Linked DNA regions of Homo sapiens: regions 2, 3, 4, 5, 6 and 7 are each reported to be linked to region 1. The links are microRNA targets in miRTarBase. Many come from high-throughput screens and were not tested one by one. Region 1 holds a microRNA gene; each other region holds the end of a gene's coding sequence.

Region 1 (3,097 bases):
ATCGCTAGATAAAATAGTCCAGGTAAGTAAGAGCTACATGGAGAAGCCACATTAAGACAGCTAGTGAAAGCCTCAATGCAAAAAACAGTGGACAATAGCTATAAATTTCTGAGAAAAAACAAGTAGGCTGAGACTTTTATACCTAGTTAAGCTGTCCCTTGTGCATAAAGAGATATATACTCTCAAATGCACAGGAACTCAAGGGTAGTGTCTATGAGCTATTCTCACAGAAACAATAAGATCATTTCCATTGAGAGATAAATTAAACTTAAAAACTAAAGAACGGAGAAACCTCAGTTAAAAAAAAACAAACCTTGTGGTCAGAAATGAATTCATTTAAATATAGAACTATGGCAAAACACCTGCAAGAATTATAGTTCTAGAACAAATTGCAGATATTTATAATGTAAAATTAAAATGTATAATTGAGAAAAAGCAGGAGATAGTAAGCAAAGGAAGAATAAGAATGCTGACTTCTTTATCTTTCTGAACTAGGAGTGAAATTGAAATAGTTAAAAACCATAACAATCCTAACCACTTAATTTTTACACTCTAATTTTTCTTAATTTTACAGGGATCTTTTAGGAGTTGCTACCTGTGGTGGTAAAGCGAGAAACATTTATCAATCATTTCAATCTCCTTTAGCTTGTTTTTTATGATAAATTCAAGGAAAATTATAGTTAGCATTTTTAATAAAATGATTAGGTACAGTGTGATCTCATATTTTCCCTGCGTCTGTCTTGTTTTTCTATTTGCATGTATGCTCAGACAGGTGTATGAAATTTCTAAAGCCCTTAATGGTTATTTCTGGGTGCCAGAGAATTGGGCAATTTTCCTTCTTTTTCATTTAGATTTTTCCACATCGCTTGAATTTTATTAAGCATGTGTCATTTTCATAAATATGGTAATAAGGTAGAATAATTATCCTTTTTGAAAAGAAAAACAAGAAATTGAAAATGCAACTGTCTTCTGTTCTTAAATTTGCTGTGGCCTCCAGATCAACAGATGTGGTGAGTCACCCTTCCAGTGAGTCCCCAAGAATGCTGAAATCAACGCCCCTTCCCTGAATTTGTCAACATGTCTAAGAAGTCCTTCCTCCATGGTAAGATTTAATAGTGAAAGAGAAGAGAACTATACATTGTTTTTCTTTAAAAAAAAACACAAAACCCCAGAAGCATCATGGGCACCACCACTTCCTCAGTCACAGAGGGGTCTTGAGCACAGATCACATGCTTCTTCCCCAGGAATGCACTGGCTGAGGATTAGGAGTGCTAGCAGCACCTACCCATTGGTTCCAGGGCCACACACATGTTCAGTTGCACTGGTGTGGAACCAACATGAGTATGGTGTCCCCTAAATCGGCATCAGGTCCAAGAAGACACCTGGTGAGATCTGATACCGAAAAGAGGTCGACCGTGTATTGGGCATCATTAAATAATGCGAACTCACCACGGACAACCTCCCTCCGAGTACCATGAGGTGGCACTGCTCGCAGCATTCCTGCATCTTCTGCACAGCCTGGGCAGCTTGGGAGTGGCCTCTGAGGGTGGATGGGACCCTGAGGATGAGTGGACCAGGTGGCTCAAACCCATGCTCTCCGGCCAACCCCAGGTTCACCAAGCCAGGATTAGTGTGCACAGAAATACCACTTCTTGTGCTCAGCTGGCCATGCAGGCAACATTTAATAATGCAAGGATGTCAGTGGCACAGGAGTCATTAAATATGAAGCAAACCACACACAAATGTGTGTGCAAAAGCAGGCTAAGCACTGCCTCCTTGGTAAACCTGGGATTCCCTTACAGGAATTCTCTGGAGGGTGTAAGGCTGCTGTGGGTTAGTAAACCAGGGGTCGCACAGAGTCCTGTTCCTGTTTTCTTCTGTATCCCGACGGCTGACTAATAAAAGATGCTTCTAGATGCCCAAGATTCAACTCCAAGGTTGAATTTGATAGGAATAAAAAAAGAAGTCAGCCATGTGTATTTCAATCTTAACTTTTAAAAAATTAGGGCATCCCAACAACCTCTCTCGATTTTCCTAAAGTTGGTAGTGCCCCAGGAAGTTGTTTTAGGGTCAGCTTGGACTCTAAAGTTAGTAGGTCAGTTACATGCATCCTCAGGAAAATGCTTGCCATGGGGTCAGCCATCCAGAAACCTACCTTGGAAGCAGCACTGGCTCAGGAAGCCCTCCGAGGCAGAATTTGACACTAAAAGAGAGGAGAGCCGTGTATGACTCGCTTTGATGAATCGAATTCATCACGGCCAGCCTCTCTCCAAGTACCACACATGAACACTGGTGAGAAATCCATTGCCTCTCTGGCAGAGGTGGCCGCCCTTCTCGGGAGTCCTGTTAGGAATGGGTGGGATAGTATTGGGTAGTGGGCCGAGCCGAGTGACATACACCCACATTAAGTGCATGCTCACCCGAGGCGCACTTACCTTAAGGGAGTGCTGAGGGCACTGCCTTCTCCCCAGCAGCAAGGATGCAGTTCGTCCTTCCAGACAAGACAGGGAGCTTTTGCGTAGCTCACTGGTCCCTGACAGGAGAATCATGGCCGCTTCCCAAAGCCGCATTATCTCCATGGAGCCTCCTAGGGAGAGACAGGATGCTGGGTATTAGAGGACGACGTGACAGACCTAACAAAGGCAGCACATGCTCTGGGAAGAAGGATTCAGTCACACACCCAGGAGAAAAGCTGGCCCACATCAGGTCCCTCAACAGAAGACAACATGGCGTCCCACATCGGAAGTCAACACTTCAAGGAGGCTGTCACAGTGGTGAAGGGGCTGCCAAGGCTGACTCATTGCATTTTAAGTAAACATACACCCCCAAGAGCACGTGTCATCGCAGTCCACCAAGCAGTCACAGCAAGTCCATGGCCGCTTCCCCAGAGTTGGTGGGAGCTCTGGAAAGTCTTCCTGGAGTGGGAGTGATGCTGAGGGTTGGTGACTAGGTGGCCCACAGGGTGAACACAGTGCATGCCCCTCTGGTCAACCAGTCACACACCCTGGACGGTGCTGACACCAACATCTCTTCTGGAAGTCGGCCTGGGGCCCAGGGAGCCTCTCTTCAAAGTCTTGTGAGGTGACGCTGGTGACAG
Region 2 (3,097 bases), not on the chromosome of region 1:
AGCCATCCTACAACTCCAAGAAGAGTGTGTGATAGAACTTGGATGGAAAAATAATTGTTGTCTTTATCAAAGTATTACCTTGGAAGAGACTAAATTTACTTCAAAGAAAAACTGACCAAACTAATTGAGGGACTCCCCTTTGAGAATACAGTGCCAACTCTAGAGCATATTCCTTTCTATATGTTTATATTCACTGGTGGAAAATCCCTGTCCTGTGAGGGTGGGTTTTATTTTTTAAACATCCTAGAAGTTACTCAAAACCAAAAGTAAATAAGTACGTGATCAATTTTAGTAATGGCATTTCCAGGGTTTTTAAAAAGCAGAACTTTTTACTTGTGAGTAGTTTCCTTATTGCTAAAACACTGGTCCTGAAGTCAGTATCTCTTTTTGAGCAAATAAAACCACTTCCGTTCAATGTGGGAAGAAAGTGTTTTCACTTCTTAATTACATCTTAGTGAACTCTGGATTTTCTTTGACATTTAAAAATAGTTAAATTCTATTGAATCTCAAAATAGCTAATCCTTTTTAAAAAAGTTTTAGCACCTGTACATTTCTTTTTAAGGGCTAAAACTCCAAGTTTATTTTGTCAAATTGCCAAGGCAACCAAGAACATTGCCATATTAACACCTGCGTGTGACATCGTTGAGTGAAGACATTGCAAAGAGGATGTTTAAAAGTTGAATGTGTGTTCTGCATAGTCTGGCGCTCTCAGACAGCCAAACAGGATAGAGGCCAGATGGTTCCGTATCTGTGTGGCCTCCCACATATCTTACATGCATTTGGAGTTCCTATTTTATAGAATTAACTGTTGCCAATTCCTTGTAACTCTCACAACCCCCTTATTATCCATTCCAACAAAGGACATAGATATAATAAAGTTTGGCAAGAAACATTTAATCCATTTCAGCTCTCCCAAGTAGTACTATTCCTCTATCAATCTAAAGACATCAAATTTTGTCCTATTTTTAAAAATACCTCCAGTGAAGGAGTTTTCGCCAGTAACTTATCTCAGAATCAAGGATTCTAAGAGTCTGGTTTTTGTTATAACAAATAATCACACAATTATTTTTAAGACCACGGGAAGAAAGATATTGTACTGATCTTCTCAATATCCCTTTTGCAGAAAGATTAGTCCTTGTGAAGCTTACTTTTATAAAAAGTAAACTGTAGGACAGTAAACTGACAGGACATAAGAAAATCAGATTCTCTGATAACCTGACAAGCTTTTCTAAACATTTACTTATAATATTTTGAGATGAACAAATGATTAAGAGGAATTTTTCTTTGAGTCTTGGCTTTCCTAATTCTAGATAATAATCATTTGAGCTTTATTTATAGCATCTTTCTTCAGAGATGCTCTAAGAACAGCCATCTCATTTGTCTTCAGGAGGCAAATGTGAAATTGTGTTTCATTTTTTACTTTAGAAATGAATTTGTGGCTGGGCGCAGTGGCTCACGCCTGTAATCCCAACACTTTGGGAGGTCGAGGTGGGTGGATCACCTGAGGTCGGGAGTTTGAGACCAGCCTGACCAACGTGGAGAAACCCCATCTCTACTAAAAATAGAAAAATTAGCCTGGTGTGGTGGCGCATGCCTGTAATTCCAGCTACTCAGGAGGCTGAGGCAGGAGAATTGCTTGAACCCAGGAGGTGGAGGTTGCGGTCAGCCGAGATCGCGCCATTCCACTCCAACCTGGGCAACAAGAGCGAAACTCCATCTCAGAAAAAAAAAAAAAGGAAAAAGAAATGAATTTGTAAGGTTTCTAATGGAGAGCCAGGGTTTCTCCTCCTGTAAACAAAGTAATAAAAACAATTTTAAGAAGCTTTGTCATTTTTAAAAATGATTCAATCATCTAAGTCTAGAAAATAAAATGGTTATGGGACCAAACTAAAAAGAAAAAAAAGAAAAATTAGTGAAAAGGAGACCCTCCTTTTAATTTCTTCTGATTAAAAATTTTAAAGTGTGCATTGGATGGAAGGAAACGAGGTATGATATAATCTTAATTGTACATAGTGCCTAGTATATAACACGGGAAGCAGAAAGTTTATCTCCCAAACAAATATGACAATGAGTTATTGAAACCACAAGCCAGTTTATTTATCAATGATGTCAGTACTCAAAGTTGTCCAGTTAAAATCTACTTCCTCTTGAAAAACAAAAATACACTGAAGGAAGATGCAAAGAGCTAAAAGTGGTATCATGATTCCACAGCAGTGATTGTAAGACAGTGAGCCACAGGGAAATGGGAAAACGTGAAAAGAAACAAGTATCAGGACCAAATTAGAGAAGATATGAGTAGGGCCATCACTAGAGGTGAAAATGGAGAAACCTAAGAAAACCAGTGTTGGCATGAATTATGCAAGTGGAAAATACATCTGTAGAGGGACGAGATAGAAGGACCTAGATCTAACTCCAAGTGCTTGATTGGAGAAGAGAGGGAGAAAGAGAATTTATAGAATTAACTGTATAGAAGCCTAAAAAATAAGATTATCAGCCTAGTCATGTAAAGTCTAGAAGTTCCTTTATTTGCTCATCACCTTTCCTTTTTCTATAAGACTATTAAGCAGAAGGTCAGTAACAGAAAATTTACCCTTTCCTCTCCTCTCTTGGTTTAAATTTTATAAGGAATCTGAAGAGGCTATGGATCAGTTGGCATTACAGTGGGAAGAGCTTATTGAAGCAAGGTTGACAATAGGTCTTGTCATTCTGCTCCCTGAAAATGCCCTTCGACAACTGTGTCAGGCAGAAAGCACACACAAAGTGCTCAGGATGGAACTTGTACCCCATGGCACTGATACAACGGCCAGTGATGGGCTGCCCACACCCATGGCAGAGCGTTCCCCGGCGGTGATGGTAATGGAGCTCACAGAATGGACGTCCATCCAGTTCAAAGAAGGAGCCAGTAGAAAAACTGGTGAAGCAGTCCTGGGGTAGAGAGAAGAGAGAGAAAAAGAATGCAAATGTCAAGAGGTAAAATGTCAGCAAAGTAAAATTTTCAGCCTTGAAATTCCTGACAGTTACCTGCCAGCTACAGGAATTTCCCTCAGGTTCTTGACAAATGGAGACTAGATTTCCCGCTTGCAAAACAGACAAGCAA
Region 3 (3,097 bases), not on the chromosome of region 1:
GATTACAGGCACGTGCCACCACGCCCAGCTAATTTTTTGTATTTTTAGTAGAGATGGGACCATGTTGGCCAGGGTGGTCTCAAACTTTTGACCTCAAGTAATCTGCCCACCTTGGCCTCCCAAAGTGCTGGGATTACAGACCTGAGCCACTGCGCCCAGCTATTCAATTTTCTAATTTAAGAAACAGATGTTATTTGCTTTGCCAAAGGAATAAAATTTTGGCATTCTTAAAAGCATAAGGATATTCTAAGTCCATATTTTAATTTTAAAAATATACAATTCAGGCCGGGCGCAGGGGCTCATGCCTGTAATCCCAGCACTTTGGCAGGCCGAGGCGGGCGGATCACGAGGTCAGGAGATCGAGACCATCCTGGCTAACACGGTGAAACCCCGTCTCTACTAAAAATACAAAAATTTACAATTTAGTGCTATAAATGCATTTTGGTGTTTCTCTTTTAAATGAGCAATTCTAGAATTGCCTATGACACTGAAGTAACAATAACCTAACCGTTTTTTTTGTGTGTGTTTTTTAATAGGTTATTTCTGACAGACAAACGCCAAAAAAAGATGAAAGTCTTGTATCCAAAGCAATGGAGTACATGTTTGGCTGGTAGTAGAACACCAAGAAGGAGGTTGCTACACTAAAACAGAGTTAGCAGAGTGCTGCTGGTTCCTTCGGTTAGTTATATAACTGTTCCTGCAGTATTGGATAGCTATCTCATACTTCTTTTAGAAAGAAGCCTTTTTCATTAAGGATACAACCTATTTGTAGCTCGCACTTTAAAAGATGCTTGAGATACATTTTAAAGAAAACTAAAAATCCCTGTAAATAGGATTTTGTGCTTTCTGTAACAGTGCATGCTTCAGCACAGAAAACTCAGCATTGATTATTGTAAATTAAATAACTGAAATTGTGGTGAGACGTCATAGTCTTCATGAGAACGTGGGGGTGAATTTCATGAAGGGGAACTATAGTTATTTCTACCGACACAAATATTATAATTAGCAATTTGAATTATGGTCTTTTAATTTAGATAGTATTTAATATTTTAATTATCCTTGTTTGTATATGTCCTGTCACAGAGTGTCCTCTTGGTGTATTCTAAAACGAGCATTCTTTTAAAAAACCTAAAGTTTCTTGATAATAAACATTGTCAATGATATGTGTATTAGTCTGTTTGCATTGCTATAAAGGAGTACCTGAGGCAGGATAATTTATTAAAAATAAGAGGTTTATTTGGCTCAGGGTTTAATTGGCTTGTAGCTGTACAAGAAGCATGATGCTTTACTTGTGGAGGAAAGTAAAGAAGAGTGAGCATATCACATGGTGAAAGAGAGGAAGAGAGCAGGAAGAAGGAAGTTCTAGACTCTTTTTAATAACCAGATCTCACATGAACTCATTACTGCAGGGAGGACACCAAGCCATTCATGAGGGATCTGCCCCCATGATCTAAACATCTCCCACTAGTCCCCACTTCCAACATCGGGGACCATATTTCAACATGAGATTTGAAGGGGACAGATATCCAAATGATATCAATATGTATTGAACATTTTTTGAAAGGGTGATTTATTATAAAAAGCTTTAAGTATTCATTGAAAGAGAAAATATGTATGAACCACTATATACCAGCTTTAATTACCATTAAATTTTGCCATACTTGTTTCTTTTCTTTCCCTTTTATTTTGTTTAAAGCACATCCCAGATAAGATGTCATTTTACTCTAAATACGTGAGGATATATCAAAAAAGAATATTTCTACATGGAATTACAATGTCAGTATCCCATTGAACATAATTAATACCTTTTTTTTTTTTTTTTGAGACAGAGTCTTGCTGTGTCACCCATACTGGAGTGCAGTGGTGCGATCTTGGCTCCCTGCAGCCTCTACTTCCTGGGCTCAAGTGATTCTTGTGCCTCAGCTTCCCAATTAGCTGGGACTACAGGCGTGTGCCACCATGCCTGGCTAATTTTTGTATTTTTAGTAGAGACGGGATTTCACCATGTTGGCCAGGTTGATATTGAACTCTTGAACTCAAGTGATTCACCTACCACGGCCTCCTAAAGAGCTGGGAAGTATTACTAAGTAATACTAAGGAATGTACTGGCATGAATGAAGATTCATTTATAAAGTATATTTTCATCTGAAAACTTTTACATTGAAGTCTTTTTCTTCCAGTTTAGGATTATATTTTATATCCTATTTCATAATGTGCAGAACTCAATTATTCAATATAGAACTGGCTACTAAATTCCATTTTAAAAGTCGTGCATTTGTATTTGAATTAATACACATTTTATTAAAAGGGTTGTTTATTGGAGGGGGTGTTTTATTTATTTGCATAGGCCTTTATGGACTGTGAAGTTTGCTTTTGGGCAAAAAATATTTGTTTGCTATATTTTGTTATTTCTCTTGGTATCATATCTTACCCATCTTTGTATCTGTCATTTATTTTAAAAGATCCAGGAAAATTTCAGAAAGCGAGCTGTCCTATTTTTGAACACTATATAAAAACAACAAAAATGGAATATCTGTGATGTTAGGAAAGTTACCCTGAACTAAGCCTCCTTTTAAAAGCTCAGAGAAGCTGACTTCAAAAAAAATAACGTGAAACTATAATCATGCAAGTTTGTTTAAAAAAAAAAAAGAGTATAAGGAAGAAAATAACATCCCTGTAGACATTGAAAGCACACCAGAAAGGCATGCCCATAAATGGATAGAAGCTATAGAGTAGTACTTAAAATTGAGTTTTAAGACATTTAGAAAATGATACAAGATATGAAAGAACAACAAAAATAAAATTGAAGAACTTGGGAAAATGTTAGTAATAGAGGAAAATCACTCATAAATTAAGACTAGAATAAACAACAGCTGATGAACAACAGATATGCCCTAAAAGAAATGAAAGATAAAAATGGAGGACTTTTAGAAATCAGAAAGAAAAGAGATAAAAAGGATTAGTAGGGGTATGACAAACTCTAGAGACAGAAAAAATGCAACATACAGAACAAAATCAAATGACTACTTTGATGAAAAAAATTTGGAACTACACATTGGAAGAGTAACCTGCCTACCTGAGATTATTATACTGGGAC
Region 4 (3,000 bases), not on the chromosome of region 1:
GCAGCATGAAAGTACCTAAAGACTGCCCATAAAACAGGAACAAAGAAAACAAAGCTCAGTTTCACCTCCAGCCAAAAAGGAGTCTTCATGACCTATCAATATGTAAGATGAATACAGATCATGCTGACTTTCCTCAGAGAAAAGTCTAATAAAAAATGTCCTTATCAATATCTGCTTGAAATCTAGTTTATATGGAAAATGGAGAGCATAATACACTTCAAAATGCTACTAGTATCTACTACAGTGCTTATGTCCTATAAAATCCCTATGGACAAAAACAATTTTACCTGTGAATAAAAATTAGAAATGAAAGAGGTAGGTGACTATCATTTGAAGATAATCCCAAAACAACATGTTGAATAATATGCTTGAGTCCCCAAAGAGCTCTTTAACTGGACAATGAGTTCCAACATCGGTGCAATTTCCTTAAGAGCAGAGTTTCCCAGATATTTCATGATGTCTTCAACCTTTCAATGCCCCAACTCCTGATACAGTGCCACACTCTTCAGACATTTAATATTAAGAAATAGCTAATGAAGTAAAATGTAAAGAAGTAATACTGGAGACCAAAGGGTGAGGTGATGCTGAAGTCAGCTAGGCTCTTCAAAAATCTATACCCTAGTATAGAGGAAAGCACATTTGAGCTGGACAGGACGTTAGAGATTCATCTAATCCAACTCTCTGGTTTTACAAATGAAGAAATAGAAGCTTATTTTTTCCACTGGCTCACAAAACACTAACATCCTGAAAAGATGCTATAAATCCACAGTTAACTTACTTAATTAGTCAATGATGTAGCCAAGTGGCTATATTTTCAGCCCTTATCCCTGTGGGCTGTTTTATAAAGTGAGCCACTGGTAACAGAGAAGCTGACCAAGGCCCTAGATGCACCTGGGGGCAGACTGTCAGCAAGAGAAAAACAATTTGAAATGTCAGACATGCCCTATTAAAACTTGTTCTAGGCTCAGACGAGGGTTCATTTTCCCTTCTTTGTAGGAGACACACATCTGAGCACGTTCACAAACTCCAGCTCTGCTAGGGCAAGCATTGGGGCAACAATACTATTCTGCCCAGAACACTTACAACTAACACAGATGGACAACTGGAAACCTCCAAACCCGCAGGGGCAAGACCTACACATAGCTATCTTTAATTTCTCAATAATTGTCAGTCACTTGTTTTGCAAATCAAAAACAAAAAAAAAAATCACTGGTTTTGCTTCACAGCCTTATTTATCTAAGATTTTTAAGTCTCACATTAAAAAGTGGTTGTAGGTCAGATGTGGTGGCTCATGCCTGTAATCCCAACATTTTGGGAGGCCAAGGCAGGCAGATCGTTTGAGCTCAGGACTCTGAGACCAGCCTGGGCAACATGGTGAAACCTTGTCTTTACAAAAGAAAATACAAAAAAATAGCTGGGTGTGGTGGCACACACCTGTGTGTGCGTGTGTGTGTGTGGTTCCAGCTATTCAGGAGGCTGAGACAGGAGGATTACCTGAGCCTGGGAGGTTGAGGCTACAATGAGCCATGATCACACCACTGCACTCCAGCCTGGGTGGCAAAGCGAGACTCCAAAAAACAAAAAGTGGTTGTAAGTGATTTTATTTTTTCTTTTCTATTTTCCAGTGTTTCTGTAATGCTTTCATATTTCTTTTGGTAGTTAGAAAATAAAGGCTAATTTTTAAAAAGAATATCATAGTCTAAAAAATTAAAGGATGCATAGAGTTCCCTCTTGACTATGTGACATCTAAACTGAATGAACTGTCTGCGTGGCACAGTGGAACAGCGCAGTCTCAGGATTCTGACAGATTTTTGGATCCCAGCTCTACCACTAACCTTGGGCAGGATTTTAGTCCCTCTGAGACCTGCTTTCTTCACCTGTAAAAATGAAAACAATAATACCTACCTCACAACATCCTGTAAGGATAAAATGATGCACAGTGCCTGACACATAGGTGTCCATAAATATCAACCCCTTCTCCCTATACTCCACAAAAACCCTTGAGTAAAAGGAATCACCACAGCCTGTACCAGCCACTTGCCATCCCCCTCACTACATTCACCTTTTAAATTTGCAAGGATCCTGTCTCCTAGATTTTGCGCTATTGCTTGAAGAGTTGCTATTGTGCTTAGAAAAGTATCTACATTTTATGTTCTCTTTTACAACTGTACATGCAGATAAAACATTTCTTAAAACTATCTTCCCATAAATGATAATGCACATTTCCTAAAGCACATATCATGTATAAAAACAATTCTGAAAAATAAGACTGAATTAATTTGTACATTATCTCTTAAAGTGCACCAAAGTAAATAGTAATGACCCTTAAAATGTCGCTAACCTTCCTGGGTTAGTTTTTAAAATAAAACTAAATATATATTGATTGAGATGTTTGGCTCCAATGTGATGGTAAAAGCAGCAGTGTCTTCCAGAAAAAAAAAGTCTTGATAAACTCAAATAAGCATACCTTAGCAGCACACGAAACACCTACAATTCAATGTAACTGCAGGCTCAATAAAGCACAATCCTGATTCCCACTATGAAAACAAAATCAATCAAGGAAAAACCCCAAAACCAAAAAAAAGTCTCCTCACCCTAAATTGAGGATTTCTATTGAACCCTGGAGGTAATATTTGTAATCACTTTCCTATTATTTATTCTTGGTAACAGAACTATAATTACCATTCTTTCTTTACACTGCTCACACACATACATACACAAACCCTATAAAAAAAAATAAAGTGGAGAGGCTATGAGAAAGAGAATTCAATGTCAATAAAGAACAAGCATCACCCAAAATGTCAGCCAGTTCCAATATTCACACCACCGTCCGATGTTCCCCACACACATAGACAGCACTAGGACGTATCCGTCGCTTTGTGTGACCAGGGAGCTGCGGCAAAAACTTGAAGGACTTAGGCATCATGTCCAGGCAAGCATCATGGAATTTCTTAATCCTCCAGTAGTAGATCAGCGGATTCAATGCAGACTTGAGGTAGC
Region 5 (3,097 bases), not on the chromosome of region 1:
TACTCCTATCCTGTCTAGCTCTCAGCCTGAAGGGAAGGACTAGCTTATACCCCGGAGCTCACTCACCCCACTTGAAGAGTCCAGGACAAGATTTCCTTTCTCGGTAATCCCTCTGGCAGCAGAACAGTCCTGCCAAAGGTCAGGGTGGACTTGTGCCTCTGTCAGATTCTTCAATGGCTTAGGGACCTTGCAACCGGGGGTAGCGGAGGAGTCCATAGGGGACCTCAGATCTGAGAACCTCTGAAACTGGATACAGAAGTGAGTGTGCATATGCACACACTGTCGTGAAAAGGGGGAGGGGCCTGTTCTCTCAGGACCCCAAGAAGCTGCAAACCACAGACCTATGGCATTTGTCCCCACAGCTAGGCCTGACTATCAAGCCTTGTTTTGTTTCCTTGTCCCCTGATTTTGTGAGTTTTGTTTGAGACAGGGTCTCGCTTTGTCGCCCATACTGGCATGGGGCGATCTCGGCTCACGGCAGCCTCCAGCTCCCGGGCTCAAGAACAGACTGGGCAACGTAGTGAGACCTTGTCTCTCCAAAAAATAGAAAAATTTGCCGGGCGTGGTGATGCGTGGGAGGATCACCTGAACCTGGGGAGGTCTAGACTGCAATGAGCCGTGATCAAGCCACAATTATCTATCAAATAATTATAGATAGATAGATAGTTGGCAGGGACAGAGAAAGGTTCTTGAAACTGACCCTGCCTCTCCTCAAGCTTGCAACCTGGTGTCAAGGAGCGAATAGTCCACGGACTTGGGGGAGATAGATAGTTGGCAGGGCCAGAGAAGAGGCTCTTGAAACCGACCCTGGGTCCCCTCAAGCCTGCAGCCCGGTGTCAGGGAGCGAATAGTCCACGTACTTGGGGGCAAACCTACCCGAGAGCAGCTGGGGGCCGTGCCCTCACTCACCACCAGGTGGCAGGGCAGGCTTCCTTCCATCCCTCAGCTCAGTCCCCAAGAGCCATTCTAGAATCTGAATGGTCTGTGCTACAGAAATCAGCTCTGCAAATCCTGGCAGCAGGCTTCTTTCAGAGAAATCGAGCACATTCTTGAGAAGAAAAAGGAGCCATGAGTCAGAGTCATGAAAGGGGGAAATTATAACTGTCCTGTGAAAACACAGCAGAGTTTATGACAAAATGCCAGCCTTGGCATACACAAATTATTCTATAAAAAGATGGGGCTTTGGGAGGCCAAGGCAGGAGAACCACTTGAAGCCTGGAATTCAAGACCAGCCTGGGCAACAAGTGGACGTTGTCTCTACAAAAAATGTTAAAAATTAGCCAGGCGTGGTGTCACGCGCCTGTAGTCCCAGCTGCTTAGGAGGCTAAGGTGGGAGGATCACTAGAGCCCAGGAGGTTGAGGCTGCCGTGAGCTATGATTGCACCACTGCACTCCAGTCTGGGTGACAGAGCGAGTCCTTGTCTTTGCTGCTGGGCCTGAGCTTCTTCTGAGAATGGTAACAGTTCAGACAAAACAAGAAAACGTTGGGAAACTTTGTGAAGTGGGCTAAACAGTCTACCTTCTCTTCTTTGCTCTCAACTCCTTCTGATGGTGAAGAGTCTTCTATGCCCAGATGCTTATTCAAAGAGGTTCCTTCTCCACAGCCAGGCCAGGAAAATATTAATTGCTGGTACAGGTATTACTCCCCCAGGTGAGGGGAGCTGTGATATTATGAAATATATATTTGGTCTTCATCTCGATTTCCTGGCATAGAACTCCTAAAATCCCTAGAATCTCTGAAGTGATGTCTTTTCATATGCTAATGAGTTGACTGATGACTGGTAGACCTTAAGACTCCATAAAAAACAAAAAGGGCAGGGTTGGGCCGGGTGGTGGCTCACACATGTAATCCCAGCACTTTGGGAGGCCGAGGTGGGTGGATCACAAGGTCAGCAGTTCAAGACCAGCCTGACCATATGATGAAACCCCGTCTCTACTAAAAATATAAAAATTAGCCAGGCATGGTGGCATGCGCCTATAGTCCCAGCTGCTCGGGAGGCTGAGGCAGGAGAATCGCTTGAACCCGGGAGGCGGAGGTGGCGGTGAGCCAAGATCGCGCCACTGCAGTCTGTCTCAAAAAAAAAAGAAAGGAGGGGCTGCCATGTGGAATGAGCCCTGAATCTGTGGGGTCAGACACTACCTGCAGGTAGATCATGTCAGAATTTGCTGAACTGGAGGTTGGAATGTGGGGTACACCCCTATACGTTTGGTCACAGAAGTGTTCTGTGTTGATTGTTGTGGGGTGACAGCAGAAGAAAAAAACTTTTTTTTTTCCAGTTGGTCTTCTCTACTCAGGGGCCTACAAGCCTTAACAGTAACCACACACTTTGCACTGTGCATGGCACATTATTGCTTTACAGACATCTTCTCACCCCTGGGTGATCTAAGTTATGAATGCACCCATTATACAGATAAAGAAAAAAGGCTCGGAAGTTCCATAGGTTGGCCAAGGACATAGCTGAAGGCCAGAGTCTGTGCCTCCAATCATTACATTATTCCAGTTTCCAGGAATCAGTATAGAAAAGGGGGTCCCTGCTTGACAGCTCAGATTCTTCTGGTTGAGGAGGCTTTTCGTTGAGGTGTGAGGCAGGGAGCTCCAGTGGGTACCCCCAGGAGGAACTAGTCCAGGCAGCCTGGCTAGGGCCTCTGTCCCAGTCTTCAGCCGTCCACTCCTGACTCGGCATCATCACTCTGGATACTGGCGATGGAGCTGCTGGAAGGCTCATCCAGGGAGGCAGCCTCGGCAGATGTAACTGCTGCCCTCAGCTTTTGCTGCTTCTGATACTTGACCCTGCGGTTCTGGAACCAGACTCTCACCTATAATTGGAGAGTGGGCAGAGATCAGAATGTGACCATCAGGTCCCACTGCTTCCTAATTCCTGGAGTGAACACCCCTCTCTGCCTGGCCAATATTTGCTCTTCCTTCTCAGGGAGGTACCTCCTCCAAAACACCCCTTTCTACAATTCCAGACACCATTCATTCATCTGAGTATTTACTGAGTTTCCAGTATGTGCTAAGCACCATCCTAGGTGATGCTGATACAGTGGTGAGCAACAGAGGCAAGCTGCCTGCCCTCGTGGAGCTCATGAGCTAGTG
Region 6 (3,097 bases), not on the chromosome of region 1:
AAAAGAACATTTCAGGCCAATACCCCTGATGAACATCGATGTGAAAATCCTCAATAAAATACTGGTAAACTGGCCGGGCACGGTGGCTCACGCCTGTAATCCCAGCACTTTGGGAGGCCAAGGTGGGTGGATCACAAGGTCAGGAGATCGAGACCATACTGGCTAACACAGTGAAACCCTGGCTCTATTAAAAATACAAAAAAATTAGCCGGGCGTGCGCCTGTAGTCCCAACTACTCGGGAGGCTGAGGCAGGAGAATGGCATGAACCCGGGAGGCAGAGCTTGCAGTGAGCTGAGATCATGCCACTGCACTCCAGCCTGGGCAACAGAGCGAGACTCTGTCTCAAAAAAAAAAAAAAAAAAAAAAATACTGGCAAACTGAATCCAGCAGCACATCAAAAAGCTTATCCACCAGTCGGCTTCATCCCAGGGATGCAAAGCTGGTTCAACATACTCAAATCAATAAATGTAATCCATCATATAAATAGACCAATGACAAAAAACACATGATTATCTCAATAGATGCAGAAAAGGCCTTTGATAAAATTCAGCACCCCTTCATGCTAAAAACTCTCAATAGATTAGGTATTGATGGAACTCATCTCAAAATAATAAGAGTTATTTATGACAAACCCACAGCCAATATCATACTGAATGGGCAAAAACTGGAAGCATTCCCTTTGAAAACCGGCACAAGACAAGGATGCCCTCTCTCACCACTCCTATTCAACATAGTGTTGGAAGTTCTGGTCAGGGCAGTCAGGCAAGATAAATAAAGGGTATTCAAGTAGGAAGAGAGGAAATCATATTGTCTCTGTTTGCAGATGACATAACTGTATATTTAGAAAACCCCATTGTTGGCGGGTCACAGTGGCTCACGCCTGTAATCCCAGCACTGTGGGAGGCCGAGGTGGGCAGATCACGAGGTCAGCAGTTTGAGACCAGCCGACCAACATGGTGAATCCCGGTCTCTACTAAAAATACAAAAATTAGCTGGGCATGGTGACGCACACCTGTAATCCCAGCTACGCAGGAGGCTGAGGCAGAAGAATCACTTGAACCTGGGAGGTGGAGGTTGCAGTGAGCCAAGATCGCACCGCTGCACTCCCGCCCGGGCAACAGAGCAAGACTTTGTCTCAAAAAAACAGTGTAAAACCAACCAACCTCCTACTATTTTACTCAATGTCTAATCCAACCAAAGGCAGAGTGGGGAGAGTTTGACTTTCTGGCAGGTCTATCCCCACACTCCAACAGACAGTTAAGGGCAACATGACTGTTCCCTGGCCCAGCTGGGGAGAGGACTTAGAGCTGCCCTGGATCCTTCCTCCCAACTTTTTGAAGTTCCAGGGAGATTTCAATGACAGCAGAAGCCATGCAAGTCCGAGTCCCTCCAGTTTCTTTCACGCAACAACACATGAAAGTCTCACTGAGCTAAGGTGATTTTGTTTTACTGAGATATAACTGACATACACTAAAAGATCTAACCCTACTATGTATCGTTTGTGTGTGTGCGCGAGTGCATGCAGACGAAGCTTTTTTCTCTCAGGATAATTCTTTTCAGAGACCTGCCTCTGCAAAGAACTGGCCGCATGGTTCCCGTGTCTAGTGTTCCATCTATGAAATAGGGCAGTTCCTCCCACCTTTCCCACCCCAACAGGTTGTTGGAAGAACAAAGGAACTCAAAATGACCTACGGTGCTCAGTGGTCCTATGCAGACGGAGGCACTGAGGGGTAACAGCTAATCCTGCTAGGGCTCAACTCCTCTCAGGATGAAGGCTTTTGAAGAATCTGCTTTTCTCTATTCAGTCAGAGGCACCCCTTCTAGCCCCAGTCATCACCGGAGCTGCAGCAAGCCTGTCAGTTTTCTCAGAAGTCCAATTTAAAACACTACACGTTCAATGTCTGTGTACTCCAAGAAGGGACTCATGGTGGAGCTGCGAGGGTTACTGGAGTGCCGGAGAAAGCCCAGCCCTGCTCACCTCCTCCAACCCCAGGGCTGACTCCAGCCTACCCTGCCCTCCCTGCAGTCTCTAAAGCACACAGGAGAAGGAACCACAAGACTGAGCTGAACTCCAAGTACAAACTTTATTTCTATTACAAGGAAGTTAATAATTATTATAACAGTAAAATAAAAACAAGGGGAAGGGGCTCTGACACTTGGTTTTCAGAGCAAGTGTGGGGCTGGGGCAGAGCCCAACATACCTGCTGTGGGGACAGGGAGCCCTCAGCCCTCCCCATTAGAAAGCAGTGAGGACAAAAGATCCATGCTCCCCCGGGAACAGAAGGCAGTGATGCCAAATGCCAAGGAAGCAGCTTAAAACACAGCCCCCGGTCCACTCACCTCCAGCTCAACACATCAAAAGCCTCGTTACTGACAGACATTGCAACTGGCCTGAGCACCTTACCAGAGCGCCTCATACACACCTGGGGCCCAATCGAGTGTGGACAGACGCAGTACACGGAGAGGTTGCCCAAAAGCCCCCAAATTTAGGCCCCAACAGGGCAGAGAATCACCTTACTGGTGGCTACCAGGTTTCCAAAATCTTCCCCTCCTTCCACTGGGACCACACAGCACCAAGGGGCAGTGGCGACAATAAGTCAAAAGGGAGCCCTGGCAGCCGAGGCTGCAGCTTGTATTTCACTGCTGCCGAAAGGTAGCAGCTAAGGCTGAAGCGTTCCTCAACCGCCACCCTGCTCCCTTCCCTCAAACCCAAACCCCCACAGCACAACCTCAAAAGACACAAAATGGCCATAACCTAGAAAAATCTAAAATCTGGAAAAACTCTCCCACCCAAAGAGCCAAAGAGGTGGGCCTGCACAGCGGCAAGTGCTGCTGTGCACAGAAGACAGGAACCGATGTAAAGTCTCTGGAGACACCATTACTCCTCCTCTTCCTCTTCTGCATCCCCAGCTCCCTGTTGCTTGGAAGGCTTTGCCTGGTGAACAACACAACACAAACGAAGCTTTACATAAAAAGTGAAAAAGCATTACTCCTCCCCTGGATCCCCGAAAATGTCCCGCTTCCTTAGAAACCTCCTTCTCAAAAGCCAAAGGAACAATCTTTGAACCACAACCAGCCTGGTCCCAACAACTTCTA
Region 7 (3,097 bases), not on the chromosome of region 1:
ACACATCTGGCACTGCGTTATGTTTCTTCACTTCATTTATATGCCAAATAGCCCTATGACTTATAAAGCCTCCAAAGTGTTTATCTGAACAAATTGCCCAATAGAGTCAATAAACTCAATTACTCAATTAAGTGAAAGAAACAATAACAAAAAAAGTTGGCTCGAATAGTGTTCTCTAATAATGGAAAAATGGAAATGTACTAATTAAGTACAATGAAAATTAATACACTCACTGTGGAATTATTCACATCTTCAGATTATTTTTTAAGCACCAATAAGTTTCATAAAATCATTATTATAATCCCTGAGAAGATCACATAAGAAATTCTTCATGAATTTTGGAACAAGAAAATTATACGTTAGCTCTAGCATGAGCAACATAAAAGTAAAAACAGGAATTTCATGTGGAAATTCTGCAAAATAAGATTTTAGAGAAATGCCTTCAATACAAAGCAGAGAAAACAGATTTGCCTTCGACATTTTTGAGGTTTCTAGTTTGCTAATAAATTATCCATACTTTTGAAATTATGTTTGGTTCCAACATTTTTCTCTTATTCTGAAAACAGGTATGCACTTACTTCAAACACATTACTTGCTTCATAACTGTCTTACACCTAACATTTATCCTTAGAGTAGTATATTTATGTATTTATCTCCATGTAAACCAAAACTAAAAGCATGTATATGTTTTGCAGGCCAGAAAAGCCACATGTTAAAAGGAAAATGTAAATAAAATTTTGTGAATAGTCCTTCAAGATTCAGAAATACACGGTCTTTGATTATAATCCTATATAGGCTTTATTATAGCCTTAATAATGACACTGTCATTACAAAAAGAGCAAACAGAATGAAGGTGTAACGTGTGGGAACAATATTTTTCAAATTATTTGAAGTTTAATGCCACTGGGAGAAGGGATCATTAGAGATACTATTCCACCATGTTACCCACTATTGTATTGTTACCATTTGTTACCTACAACCGTAACTAAGGTGAGATAGGTTAACGTTGGTGGTAGGATACGCATCACTTAATGTACAACGGTCCAAAGACATTAAAACAATGTCTTATTAAAACAAATTAAGTTCAAACAGTCTAAAAAGAGCATTTCAAAATCCACTGAATTTTATTACCTTAATGTGCAATAGGAAAAACAACTGACTTGTAAAACTCAAATGTTTCTTTCTTAAATATAATGCAGAATAGTACTCTGAAGACCTATCTCATGAATCACTTACAACCCTATTATAAGACAAGTACAAAGAGCCTCTCCAGTTAAATTTCTTCAGGAAGCTTACAATGCAATGTCCATAATCTTCCAAAGAAAAGGATATGAACAACACCCACCCGAATATAGAAGAAACTCTCACAGCTTTCATGTAGCAACAGTAGGCCTCATGCCTTCACATAAACACTAGAAATGAAGGCATGGTATCAAGTGATTTAAGACTTGAATTACATAAATATGTGATTTTCAAAAAAGCTAAAACTCTTTCAGTGCACCGAGTATACTTTATTATTATGTTGTTATTATTATTATTGAGAAAGGGTCTTGCTCTGTTGCCCAGGCAGGAGTGAAGTTGCCAGATAGCAGCTCACTGCATCCTCAACCTCCAGGCTCAAGCAATCCTCCCACCTGAGCCTTCCAAGTAGCTGGGACAACAGGCATGTGCCACCAAGCCTGGCTTTTATTTTACTTTTTGTAGAGATGAGGTTTTGCCATGTTGCCCAGCCTGGTCCCAAACTCCTGGGCTCAAGCAATCCCCCGACCTCGGCATCCAAAAGTGCAGCAACTATAGGAAAGAGCCACCGTGCCTGGCACCAAAAGGTATACTTGAAATGTAATTATAACTTCCCCAAAAGGTGAATCTCCTACTTACTTTAACTTAACTTTGAATTATTCTCTATAACCAACACTCAGATTTACAGTAATGTCTGAAAGTGTCAGTGACTTAGTGCTTTTTACTATGAATTCTTGGATGTGTTTTGATGTAATTTTTGATTAGACATTTTTTCACATTTACTGCATCTGTAAAACAGTTTTTAGTGTGAACACTCTGGTGTTTTCTGAGGTATATTTTTTGAACAAATGTTGTTTCTGCATTTATTACATTTGTAGGGTTTCTCTCCAATACAAAGTCTTTGAAATTGAATACAGTTTGAGCAACTGGAGGGTTTCCCTCCAGTATAAATTCTTCTGTGTACAGTAAGAGCTGTGATATAAGTGGAGGTGTTGAACCGGTCTATTTGTATTGTTCGTAGCCTAAACATTTTAGTGCACTCAAAGGCTCATAGACTGTAAATGGCCTTTTGACAGTCATTACATTTGTAACACTCTTATTCAGTAAAAATATTCTGCTGTGAAGTTGTGAATAGGTATTAAAGACTATGCCATATTGTTTAGAATTGTAGGGTTTTTCTCAGGTATGAGTTTTCTCATGTACAGCAAGTTGTGCAGAGTGGTTAAAGGCTTTGCCACATTCCTCACACTTGTATGGTTTCTCTCTGGTATGAATTGTCTTATGTTTAGAAAGGTGTGAGCTCTGGCCAAAGGCTTTGCCACATTCTTCACATTTGTAGGGTTTCTCTCCAGTATGAATTCTCTTATGATTAGTAAGATATGAAAACCAGTTAAAAGCTTTGCCACATTCATCACATTTGTAGGGTTTCTCTCCAGTATGAATTCTCTTATGTTGAGTAAGGTATGAAAACCAGGTAAAAGCTTTGCCACATTCCTCACATTTGTAGGGTTTCTGCCCAGTATGAATTCTCTTATGCTGAATAAGGTATGAGAACCAGGTAAAAGCTTTGCCACATTCCTCACATTTGTATGGTTTCTCACCAGTATGAATTCTCCTATGTTCAGTCAGATGTGAGCTCTGGTTAAAGGCTTTTCCACATTCTTCACATCGGAAGGTTTTCTCTCCAGTATGAATTCTTCTATGTTGAGTAAGGTATGACAACAATTTAAAGACTTTGCCACATTCTTCACACTTGTAGGGTTTCTCTCTACTATGAATTCTCTTGTGTTGAGTAAGGTATGGGAACAACTTAAAGGATTTGCCACATTCTTCACATTTGTATGGTTTCTCTCCAGTA

The links. The annotated mature microRNA hsa-miR-485-5p reads AGAGGCUGGCCGUGAUGAAUUC and lies in region 1 at 2,246-2,267, opposite strand. An mRNA with a match to its seed (bases 2 to 7 or 8) in the 3' UTR can be bound and repressed. Matches are read on the target gene's strand: a 7mer-m8 pairs with bases 2 to 8, a 7mer-A1 pairs with bases 2 to 7 and ends in A, and an 8mer does both.
Region 2: miRTarBase lists LPXN as a target of hsa-miR-485-5p. The part of its 3' UTR that is shown has no 7-base or 8-base seed match.
Region 3: miRTarBase lists NUP35 as a target of hsa-miR-485-5p. The part of its 3' UTR that is shown has no 7-base or 8-base seed match.
Region 4: the mRNA of GPR63 is a reported target of hsa-miR-485-5p. Seed matches in the 3' UTR shown: 7mer-A1 at 1,510-1,516 and 7mer-m8 at 1,473-1,479.
Region 5: miRTarBase lists NOTO as a target of hsa-miR-485-5p. Seed matches in the 3' UTR shown: 7mer-m8 at 1,996-2,002 and 8mer at 1,358-1,365.
Region 6: miRTarBase lists TRAFD1 as a target of hsa-miR-485-5p. Seed matches in the 3' UTR shown: 7mer-m8 at 2,621-2,627.
Region 7: the mRNA of ZNF695 is a reported target of hsa-miR-485-5p. The part of its 3' UTR that is shown has no 7-base or 8-base seed match.

Annotation. Positions count from the first base shown.
Region 1 is chr14:101,054,597-101,057,693 of GRCh38, reverse strand. MIR485 (microRNA 485) reads right to left here and starts at 2,275; the gene lies at 2,203-2,275. It overlaps MIR134 (microRNA 134), which reads right to left and starts at 3,007; the gene lies at 2,935-3,007. MIR668 (microRNA 668) reads right to left here and starts at 2,436; the gene lies at 2,371-2,436. MIR323B (microRNA 323b) reads right to left here and starts at 1,475; the gene lies at 1,394-1,475.
Region 2 is chr11:58,524,799-58,527,895 of GRCh38, forward strand. LPXN (leupaxin) reads right to left here. Exons shown (of 9, transcript NM_004811.3): 9 at 2,073-2,925. The coding sequence ends at 2,656. Among named protein-coding and RNA genes, the nearest start is that of OR5B21, 18 kb to the left of the region's middle. RefSeq lists a silencer at 1-92.
Region 3 is chr2:183,160,518-183,163,614 of GRCh38, forward strand. NUP35 (nucleoporin 35) reads left to right here. Exons shown (of 9, transcript NM_138285.5): 9 at 537-1,163. The coding sequence ends at 614. Among named protein-coding and RNA genes, the nearest start is that of NUP35, 38 kb to the left of the region's middle.
Region 4 is chr6:96,795,654-96,798,653 of GRCh38, forward strand. It overlaps GPR63 (G protein-coupled receptor 63), which reads right to left. Exons shown (of 2, transcript NM_030784.4): 2 at 1-3,000. The coding sequence ends at 2,819. Among named protein-coding and RNA genes, the nearest start is that of GPR63, 40 kb to the right of the region's middle.
Region 5 is chr2:73,210,491-73,213,587 of GRCh38, reverse strand. It overlaps NOTO (notochord homeobox), which reads right to left. Exons shown (of 3, transcript NM_001134462.2): 3 at 1,075-2,817. The coding sequence ends at 2,659. Among named protein-coding and RNA genes, the nearest start is that of SMYD5, 2.2 kb to the left of the region's middle. RefSeq lists a silencer at 810-879.
Region 6 is chr12:112,152,574-112,155,670 of GRCh38, reverse strand. It overlaps TRAFD1 (TRAF-type zinc finger domain containing 1), which reads right to left. Exons shown (of 12, transcript NM_006700.3): 12 at 2,067-2,936. The coding sequence ends at 2,880. Among named protein-coding and RNA genes, the nearest start is that of MIR6861, 9.2 kb to the left of the region's middle.
Region 7 is chr1:246,984,549-246,987,645 of GRCh38, forward strand. ZNF695 (zinc finger protein 695) reads right to left here. Exons shown (of 4, transcript NM_020394.5): 4 at 775-3,097. The coding sequence ends at 2,419. All of the region lies in intron 4 of ZNF670-ZNF695 (ZNF670-ZNF695 readthrough (NMD candidate)), which reads right to left. Among named protein-coding and RNA genes, the nearest start is that of ZNF695, 22 kb to the right of the region's middle.